Linked DNA regions of Homo sapiens. The protein of the gene in region 1 purifies or fractionates together with the protein of each later gene. This does not show direct contact. Each region holds a gene or a part of one and is shown in the gene's direction. Other genes may lie near its edges.

What was found. Proteins that work in one complex are often made in the same cells at the same time.
Region 2: the proteins of DDX42 (region 1) and EPB41L2 purify together in Homo sapiens (affinity purification with mass spectrometry, with the first as the bait; one large-scale study listed by BioGRID). This does not show direct contact.

What each region holds. Positions count from the first base shown.
Region 1 is NC_000017.11:63,807,790-63,813,212, forward strand, and holds part of DDX42 (ATP-dependent RNA helicase DDX42), read left to right. Parts: coding exon 1-111; intron 112-1,030; coding exon 1,031-1,159; intron 1,160-1,770; coding exon 1,771-1,870; intron 1,871-2,723; coding exon 2,724-2,771; intron 2,772-3,286; coding exon 3,287-3,384; intron 3,385-4,142; coding exon 4,143-4,419; intron 4,420-5,423. UniProt on the Homo sapiens protein: ATP-dependent RNA helicase that binds to partially double-stranded RNAs (dsRNAs) in order to unwind RNA secondary structures. Unwinding is promoted in the presence of single-strand binding proteins.
Region 2 is NC_000006.12:130,867,598-130,871,697, reverse strand, and holds part of EPB41L2 (band 4.1-like protein 2), read left to right. Parts: intron 1-1,316; coding exon of another isoform or gene 1,317-1,370; intron 1,371-1,571; coding exon 1,572-2,135; intron 2,136-4,100. UniProt on the Homo sapiens protein: Required for dynein-dynactin complex and NUMA1 recruitment at the mitotic cell cortex during anaphase.

The sequences.
Region 1 (5,423 bases):
GCAGCCTTCATTTGGCCCATGTTGATTCATATAATGGACCAGAAGGAGTTGGAACCAGGTGATGGACCAATTGCAGTGATTGTGTGTCCTACCAGGGAGCTTTGCCAGCAGGTATGTGCTTTCTATAGAATGCCTCCTTCCATATGTGGACTAGCAAGGGACCAGCCAGTCAAGTGAGGTAGAATGACCAGGAAACTTTTTTTTTTAATTGTGATAAGATACACACAAAATTGATTATCTTAACCATTTTTAATGTACAGTTCAGTGGCATTAAGTATATTCACAGTGTTGTGCTACCAGGAAACTTTTGGAAAGTATTATGTGTTAAATATTTTCTATATAACCAAATACATATTTTCCCCTAAAAACTACTGTTTTTATTTATTTTTATTTATTTGCTTTTTTTGAGACAGAGTCTCACTCTTTTGCCCAGGCTGGAGTGCAGTGGTGTGATCTCAGCTCACTGCAACCTCCACCTCCCAGTTTCAAGCAATTCTCCTGCCTCAGCCGAGAGGCTGGGATCACGGGCACACGCCACCACACCTGGCTAATTTTTTTATTTTTAGTAGAGACGGGGTTTCACCATGTTGGCCAGGCTGGTCTCAAACTCCTGACCTCAAGTGATCTGCTTGCCTTGGCCTCCCACAGTGCTGGGATTACAGGTGTGAGCCACTGTGCCCGGCCAGAACTACTTTTTTTAAGAGGAAAAGCCTATTGTGATATGGGGATTGTTTGTATTATAAGCTGACAGTTTTTCTGTAGGATGAGTTCATTTTATCTTGGTAGAAAAGCAGTGACAGGATCAGGAAGAGAAGGGGGTAAAATGAATAAAAGATTTTAGATAATCTGTTGAGATGCAATAATGGTATTCCATTCATTTATACCTTTATGAATAAAATCGTGGTTTTAAAGTATGTTCTAGGTTTCGATTTTTTATGACATCACATTCTGTTTTTCAGAACTTCGTTTGGGTTGTGACAGGTATTTGTTAGTGTCACAGTTTGTTAATATATTATTCACAACTTTGTAGATCCATGCAGAATGTAAGCGGTTTGGAAAAGCATATAATCTTCGATCAGTGGCCGTATATGGAGGAGGGAGTATGTGGGAGCAGGCCAAGGCCCTTCAGGAGGGGGCAGAGATTGTTGTGTGTACCCCAGTAAGTATGCCTTGTGTTTAAATGGCTTCTCAGCCTCCCTCGGTATGGAAAACATGATTAGTTTTGCAGAGAATTTCCCCTAAAGTGTGGTAAAAGCAGGGTTGAAAATATACTGATGAACGGCAGGCTGTGGTTTTAATTTTGATTGGTGGCTAAATTAGCAGTTCAGTGAGAGTCTCTGTGACATATAGGCTAGTAGCTACAAATTCCCCTCTATGTCAAATAGTTTTTCTTATACTCTCCCACAAAATGATTGCCAAGTTCATCAAGAATCAGAAAGATACATATGGTCAGAATAGCCTAGAAGAGTGTAGTTTAAACATTGAAACCTGTCATTATGCTTTAAATCAGGTCACTTTAGAATGCCTCAAAAACTGCTTCTGGCCACTTTCCCACAGAATTTAAATCACAGTGTAAATGAAGATGCCGATTGAGTTTTCAAAATTTCTGTTCCTTTGAGCTAAGTAGTGCATAAGGTATGTGGCTGTTGGACCAGTATCTATTACAGTCTGAGACTAGAGAATTAGCACTTTTGCCAGGAGTGCAACTGCTTAGAAAGTCCCTGTGAATGCCTTTAATTATACTTACTGTTCATTTTGTTGATCTTATAGGGTCGACTGATAGATCATGTGAAAAAGAAAGCTACCAATCTTCAAAGAGTCTCTTACCTTGTGTTTGATGAAGCAGATCGAATGTTTGACATGGGATTTGGTATGCCTTGAATACCAGTTTCTTCTGTCCCCATCCTCATGATACTAGTTTTTTTTCCATGTCTTTCTAGACTGTTTTTTCAGCATGAGAGAAGCTAAAAATACTCCTGGATGGGGTTAGACTATAGAAATATAGCTAAGATGAACATTTTTAGGAGTTTTCTCTGGAAAAGTATGTTAGGTTTTATTGGGTTGAGGAAATTTCAAAGTGCCTTTGTATATAAGGGGAATATTTTCTCTGTCTTCATTTTTATCCATATGCCTTTGATCATAGAGGTTAAGGTCTGTGTTCTTGGGTAGATGAATGTCAGATCATTCGAGGCCCTTTGCTTTCCTATCCTCGTAGCTGTCTTTACTGATTGGAACACTGCTAGACCTAGCCCAGTTGGATGGAGGGAAAATTTTTCACTTTTATGCTGAATGATATGTTTAGGAGCTTCTTTTTTCTTGAGACAGAGTTTTGCTTTTGTTGCCCAGGCTGCAGTGCAGCGGTGCGATCTCACTGCAACTTCCTCCTTCCAGTTTCAAGCGATTCTTCTGCCTCAGCCTCCTGAGTAGTTGGGGTGATAGGCACCTACCCCACAGCCTGGCTATTTTTTTTTTTTTTTTTTTTTGGTATTTTTAGTAGAGATAGCTGTGTTGACCAGGCTGCGAACTCCTGACCTCAAGTGATCCGCCTGCTTCGGCCTCCGAAAGTGCTAGGATTACAGGCATGAGCCACTGTGCCTGGCCTGGGGTTTCTAATTTTCTTAATTCTTACAACTTCTTATGAAGACTTTTACTAATATGGCTTTTTCCAGGCTTCCCAAACTGTATTTCAGGTTATAATAATTTTATTGTTCTGTTTCTTGCAGAGTACCAAGTTCGATCCATAGCAAGTCATGTTCGTCCTGACAGGCAGAGTATGTATGAAGCACCTTTGTTAAACCAAATTTGTACTAAAAAGGGCACTTATTTATTTTATAAGCACTCAGAGTTATGGAAGTAAAAATGATCTTGTGTCTGTTGGTGAGAACCATAATAAGGGAGGTAATGAGTTTATCTGAGCTGGACAGGATCTTAGCACTAGATATAACTTGTTCCTTTTTATAGATGATAAAACCAAGGATCAGAAATTAAATAAACTGCCCTAAATTATACAGTTTTATCAGTGGGTAGAAGCAGTGTACAGTACAGATCTGCTGATTTGAAATCAAGAGTCTTTTTCTGAACCATACTGACAACTTGTCTTAACTAAAAATGTAATAAAAATAGAATAAGAGCAAATCTTTCCCTAGTGAATCAGTTTCTAAACTAAATTTAAAGTTCAGGTGAGCTTATGTAAAAAAACTGAATAATCCTGAATGCCAAAGAAGCTTAATGGGTATGCATAAAGATATCATATTGTTTCTCTAACAGAATTTATCTTACCTTTTAGCTCTCTTATTTAGTGCAACTTTTCGGAAGAAGATTGAAAAGTTGGCCAGAGACATCCTGATCGACCCTATTCGAGTGGTGCAGGGAGATATTGGAGAGGTAACCCTAAGCAGGGCTGGATGGGACCTTAATGGGTTTATTTCTCATATTATGGAACACAGAATTAATTTCTCACTATTGAGATAAAAAAAAAAGATGTTATGTTTATAGATGCAACATGCTTGAGATTGGGTATTTTGCAAGTTGTGGGGATAGACGTAACAAGACTGGCAAAATGTTGGGAATCATTGAAGCTAGGTGATGGGTATGAGTTGATTTTGTTCATTTTGTGTTTTTTTTGTTTTATTGAATGTCTCAAAACTTACAATTGTTTTAAAAAGGCTTCAAAGAGACAAAAAGATGTGCCTGGAAGCATCAGCGTATTAGGTTGGAACTGACGTTTTAATTATTGTGGTAGGGGCCTACGCAGGAGGGAAAGGGTGACCTGGAAGGCCTGGAAAAAATCAGGTTTCATTTCTTACCTGTACATATGCGCTATGTGAAAAATTACTCTGAATTGGGACTTGGAATTCAGTTATGGCTGCTTAGAGAATCCTTCAGTTGCTTGCCATGGTTATTGTTAAGGAAAGCTCTACAAAGTAGTGGGGCATACAAATTAGGTATGTACACCAGGTGGAGAGCAAGGTGATTGGAAAGGAGAGGTGAGTTTTGAGCTGCACTTGACTTGCTGAAGGCCCAAGGAGAACTGGGATTGTTCAAGGTCTTCTCGATGCAGGTAGAAATATAATGCCTAGTCCTTGTTCAGGTGCCCTGTGGCTCCAATGTCACAATCATCTGTTTCATTTCTTCCTTCTCAGGCAAATGAAGATGTGACACAGATTGTGGAGATTCTCCATTCTGGACCTAGTAAATGGAACTGGCTTACCCGGCGTCTGGTAGAATTTACCTCTTCAGGGAGTGTCCTCCTCTTTGTTACTAAAAAAGCCAATGCTGAAGAGCTAGCGAATAACCTTAAACAGGAGGGTCATAATCTTGGGCTGCTCCATGGGGATATGGATCAGAGTGAGAGAAACAAGGTCATTTCAGACTTTAAGAAAAAGGACATCCCAGTCCTGGTGGCCACAGATGTTGCAGGTAGAGTATGAATTTTTCAACAACATTAAGTTCCTAGGCTATAAGGGTACTCTGTCTTACTACATAAGACCTATAATATCTGAGCAGGCTGATGGAAAGACTGTTGGCCTGGCTGGCCATCCCCTCCCAAACCCCCAAGGAAGCAGCAGTTCAGCACAGGGATCACAGTCTGGAGCTCTAGATACCACTTTTCACTTAGTATTTCTCTCTAATCAAAGAATCCCTGCAGCTAGAAGTCACTCTGGGAAAAAAGGCAGTGAATGCCCTTATTGTATGTCTGAATATAGTAGATACCTTACCCTTACATTGATCTACTATACACAGCTTAGTTGGGCAACTTAACTCAGGATGAGAACAGTTTTTGGAATATAATTTCTGGATTTGTTCTGTCAAGTTTTAATAACTACCCTTAAACACTGATATTTTTTCCTAGAAAGGAGAGAACTTCTCAGCTTCATGACACATTTTAAATATATATTCCCAGTGCAAGAGAAGAGGGCATGGCAGATTACTGATGCAAAAGATAAAAGTCCCAGTCGGGCACGGTGGCTCACACCTGTAATCCCAGCATTTTGGGAGGTGGAGGCGGGCGGATCACCTGAGGTCAGGAGATCGAGACCATCCTGGCCAACATAGTGAAACCCCGTCTCTACTAAAAATACAAAAATTAGCTGGGTGTGGTGGCGCGTGCCTATAATCCCAGCTACTTGGAAAGCTGAGGCAGGAGAATTGCTTGAACCAGGGAGTCGGAGGTTGCAGTGAGCCGAGATCATGGCACTGCACTCCCGTCTGGCAACAGAGCAAGACTCCGTCTCTAAAAAATAAAAGTCCCTTACACTAGAAGGCCTAACATCATAGAATCTGTGGTGGTGACTTAACATGCCTGTATCTCAGCTCACCAAACCCATGCGCTTTGCCTAGATAAAGGAAATGTGGCTTATTAGCACTAGCATTTCTGGTTACTTTGATCTTCTGACTACAGATGAAGAATAAAAGAATTTGGT
Region 2 (4,100 bases), on another chromosome or scaffold:
AGCTGTCTTCTGTTAGTAATGTGATTTACATGGTATTAATTTGGGTCAATGAAACCATGCCCTTACCATGTGTTTAAGAATAATAGGGCAGGTCCAAGAGAGTTTGTGAGTAGACGTTGACAGTGCTGCAGAGACGTGTGTGTGTGATGTTAGGATCTTCAGCTCATGGTTGTCCAAGTGTCTGGGAGAGATGAACTCAGCCCTGCTGTCTATTAGAGGCTCCAGTCCAGTTAGTACCTTGGCAGCTTCACAACAATATCCAGAGGGCTCAGTGGTGTGGTGCCCTTCTCCATCCAGAATGGAGTCACTTTCGTGAATAAATAGGGCTCCTGGCTCTAGCTGAATTATTTTTAAGTTAGATCATAGGCAGTAGTACCACCTAGAAGTCAAAAAGTTGGCCATGCTTGAGTTATATCATTGTAAAGCAGACTTTTTGTAAGTGTGAGAAAAATGTGAAGCTTTAAAAACCCCTCTGTACAAAAAGGTTTCCACCCTAGTTAATAATATCATAACATAGTAATTTGTTCCTAATGTATTAAGTCAACAGATATTTATTGAACATTTAGGTGCTATATTACTCAACTGGAGTAAATTACTTTACTCCCAAGAAGTAGATGTCTGAAGGGGATAGGAGTGAACATGTCAAATAATAAACTTGACTGAGTTTAGATTTCAAAGATGCTAGTAGAGGAGCTAAATTGTAAAAGGAAACACTTGGAGTCACCATTGACACCCACCCTATTGTATAATATAGCCTTTGCCAACCTATGATACGAATTGGAAAGTTAATAACCATTTCTGGAATGAACATTTTCATGTTAATAGCCTTCTGAGGCTAACTATAATTTTGCCAATTAAAACTTTTTTTTTTTTTTTAAAGAAAACCAGCAAAAAATAAAAGTGCCATCTCCTTGGTGCTGTGTTCATTTAAGAATCAGCGTTCCAGGCTAGACTTTATAGTCTGATTAAAACCAAAACTGTTACTAGGTTTTAAAAGTTAAATTTTTTTCTTTAAAATGATGAGTCAGCTTTGGTATAATTCAATTTTTGTAAACTGTTTTAACTACATAGGTAGAGCTTATAGGTATATCTATAATAAAAGCATTTTACTTCTTTGGGAGGATGCTGGCTGTTTTTGTGTCTTTTTGTAAGCTTTTTGGCATTTGTCTTGATTGTCCTCTATGTGACCTTGAGCAGAGGTTTCTGTAGATGTTGATTCTTGCTGTTTTGTCTTTGCAGTGTCAGATGTTTGTTTCAGTGGTTGTTGAGGTAAAACTGTATTGATTTTGTGTCCTCGGTTGCTTTTTGTTCTGCAGACACGTGCTCCCGAGTCAGAAGGGCCTTGCACTGGAGCCAGGGATGCTGTTAAGGTTCTCCCCTTTTTCCATGTTAACACCATTGCCTCACGTTTCTCATTGCCCTCACGTTTGCCCCGCTTCCCTTTCAGTCAGCCATCATAATCATCTTTGTTTTTCTCCATGACATGAATCTGCCATCGGTTAATTTGGGTTTCCGTTGTTTTTATTTATTCATATATTTTTGTTTTCCCTCATCCATCTTTTTTTGTACAGAGTTCACATGAGACTCTGAATATAGTGGAGGAGAAGAAGCGGGCAGAGGTTGGGAAAGACGAAAGAGTAATCACAGAAGAAATGAATGGTAAAGAGATATCACCTGGGAGTGGTCCTGGGGAGATTCGTAAGGTGGAGCCTGTGACACAAAAAGACTCCACCTCCCTGTCTTCTGAGAGCAGCAGCAGCAGCAGTGAGAGTGAGGAGGAAGACGTGGGAGAGTACCGTCCCCACCACCGAGTGACCGAGGGCACCATCAGGGAGGAACAGGAGTATGAAGAAGAGGTGGAGGAAGAACCCCGCCCGGCAGCCAAGGTAGTAGAGAGGGAGGAAGCAGTGCCCGAAGCCAGCCCAGTCACACAAGCAGGTGCCAGTGTAATCACAGTAGAAACAGTGATCCAGGAAAATGTAGGTGCCCAAAAGATACCCGGAGAGAAGAGTGTACACGAAGGCGCTCTTAAGCAAGACATGGGAGAAGAAGCAGAGGAAGAGCCACAGAAAGTTAACGGAGAGGTGTCCCATGTTGACATTGATGTTTTGCCACAAATTATTTGTTGTTCAGAGGTAAATGGGAGTCCCAGGTGGGAGCCAAACTCTAGAGCTGCTTCTCAGATGGGGAACTCCTGCCTTTCTTCTCCTGTCCTCCCAGTTCTTCAGCTTTTTTCAACAAGAATCTGATTTTTCTCTCTCATGGGAGGAAGGGGGAAGCACTGCTTTGTGGATTTTCTGCCCGCCCAGTTCATGGGTTCCAGCTTCTCTGCGGCCACTGGACACCTGTAGGGTAAACTTTCCTAGAAGCACCACATCAATTTTTCCTTCCCTTTTCACATTTAAATTTTTCTTTGCATGTTTTGGGTGTTTTCAACTGTTTTGTCTTCAGTTGCACTGCTTCCTCACACTAAATGCCTTTTTTTCCCCTTTTGGTTTAATTAGAAAAATGTATATGTAATGTTGAAAAAAAAAATGGTCACTGCTGAGTGTGTGTGCCCCTGATGTCATGATTGGGTTTGACTTCTTGGCTCATTCTTCAGCTTCAGAGTTTTAGAAATGACAGCAGTCTCTGATTACCGTGGTTCTCTGAATGCAGTATCCAGCAGTGATGAGAATGTTATTTCTTGAATGCCACTGTGATTTCTGTTTTGGGATTGCAGGGGTTGTATGGTTTTGTTAAGAGCCTTTCTTTTCTTCCAGGCAGCCAGAGGCTAGGCTATTTGATAGGAGGATATCCTCGCTTCTCATTCTATCCTGATGTCAATTCTGGAGTATTTGCCAGATGATTATATGTTTTGTGGATTATCTATACATTGGACATGAATCTTTTTCTTTTCAAAGAAGAGAACTTTTTGGTCACTAAGTGCAGTGTCTCTCATTTGGGAGTTAGGCTGAGGGAGGGTTTATTTCCTTGGGAATATTTCTTGATTTTAATATTAAATGCCCACAGTACAGAGATTTATTTTGTTCTCTTCGATGGGATGGAAAATGTTGAAGTGACTTTGTCTTAAAATAATTAAGTGGATTTTAACCATGTTACTTTTAAACTTCTGTTTCACTTTAGAGAAGATTTTTCAAGAGTCTTTGAACACTTTGAACTATTCTGTATTTAACATATCGTTACTCCTCTTTAAATAATTATGCCTGTTGAGAATGTTCTCTCAAAGAAAGTACTGCAGTATTTTGGTAGTAGTATAGTCTGGTGTTGCATTAATATTAAGCATGCATACTCGGCAGACTAAAATGTTAATAAGCCGTTGAATATTTCCTTTAATGTTTTAAATTGTTCAAAGCATTGGTGTAACATTGATGGAGTAATTTTAGATAGAGCATTTTAACTTAGGTAATACAGAAGAAACACTGCAAATTTTAGACAGGTATAACTGAAAACAGTAATACTTGAAGACATCCTTTCTGAAAATGGTGTGTCTGTTAACAATAAGGCAGAAAAGGTATTGTGGGCAGAAGAACAAATCTTAGCCTACCTAGCTGGCATGCCAGTTAAAGGCAGTGAGCCTTCACACAAACTATGTGGTCCTTTAAATTATAATAAAAATAGAGACAAGTCACTTCACATAGTTCATTCTATTTTCTTTTCAATTTATTATTACTTGCCCAAAGCTAAGGAGGGAGGAGGAGAGAGAGAGAGAGAGAGAGAGAGAGTGTGTGTGTGTGTGTGTGTGTGTGTGTGTGTGTGTCACTATACACTAGGCTTGACATAAAAGTAGTTTGGGACCATCTTAATTTAAAGAGTAACATAATTTAGGAAGCCATCATGTCAACTTATTTTTCATATATGTGTATGTACACATACACACATTCATATATATGTACGTATCTATGTGCACATGTATGTATGTGTATATATGATATATTTGAAGGAAAATTTTTCTTTTATTTCTTTTGTTTGTTTTAGGTTGTTTGCTTTTACTCTTTTCTTTTGTGCATGAGTGTGTGTTTGGATATGTTTCTTACTATTATTTGTGAAGGTTCCATTAAACACTTTTACTTTATTACCTCTAGAATTTATTTTTCCCT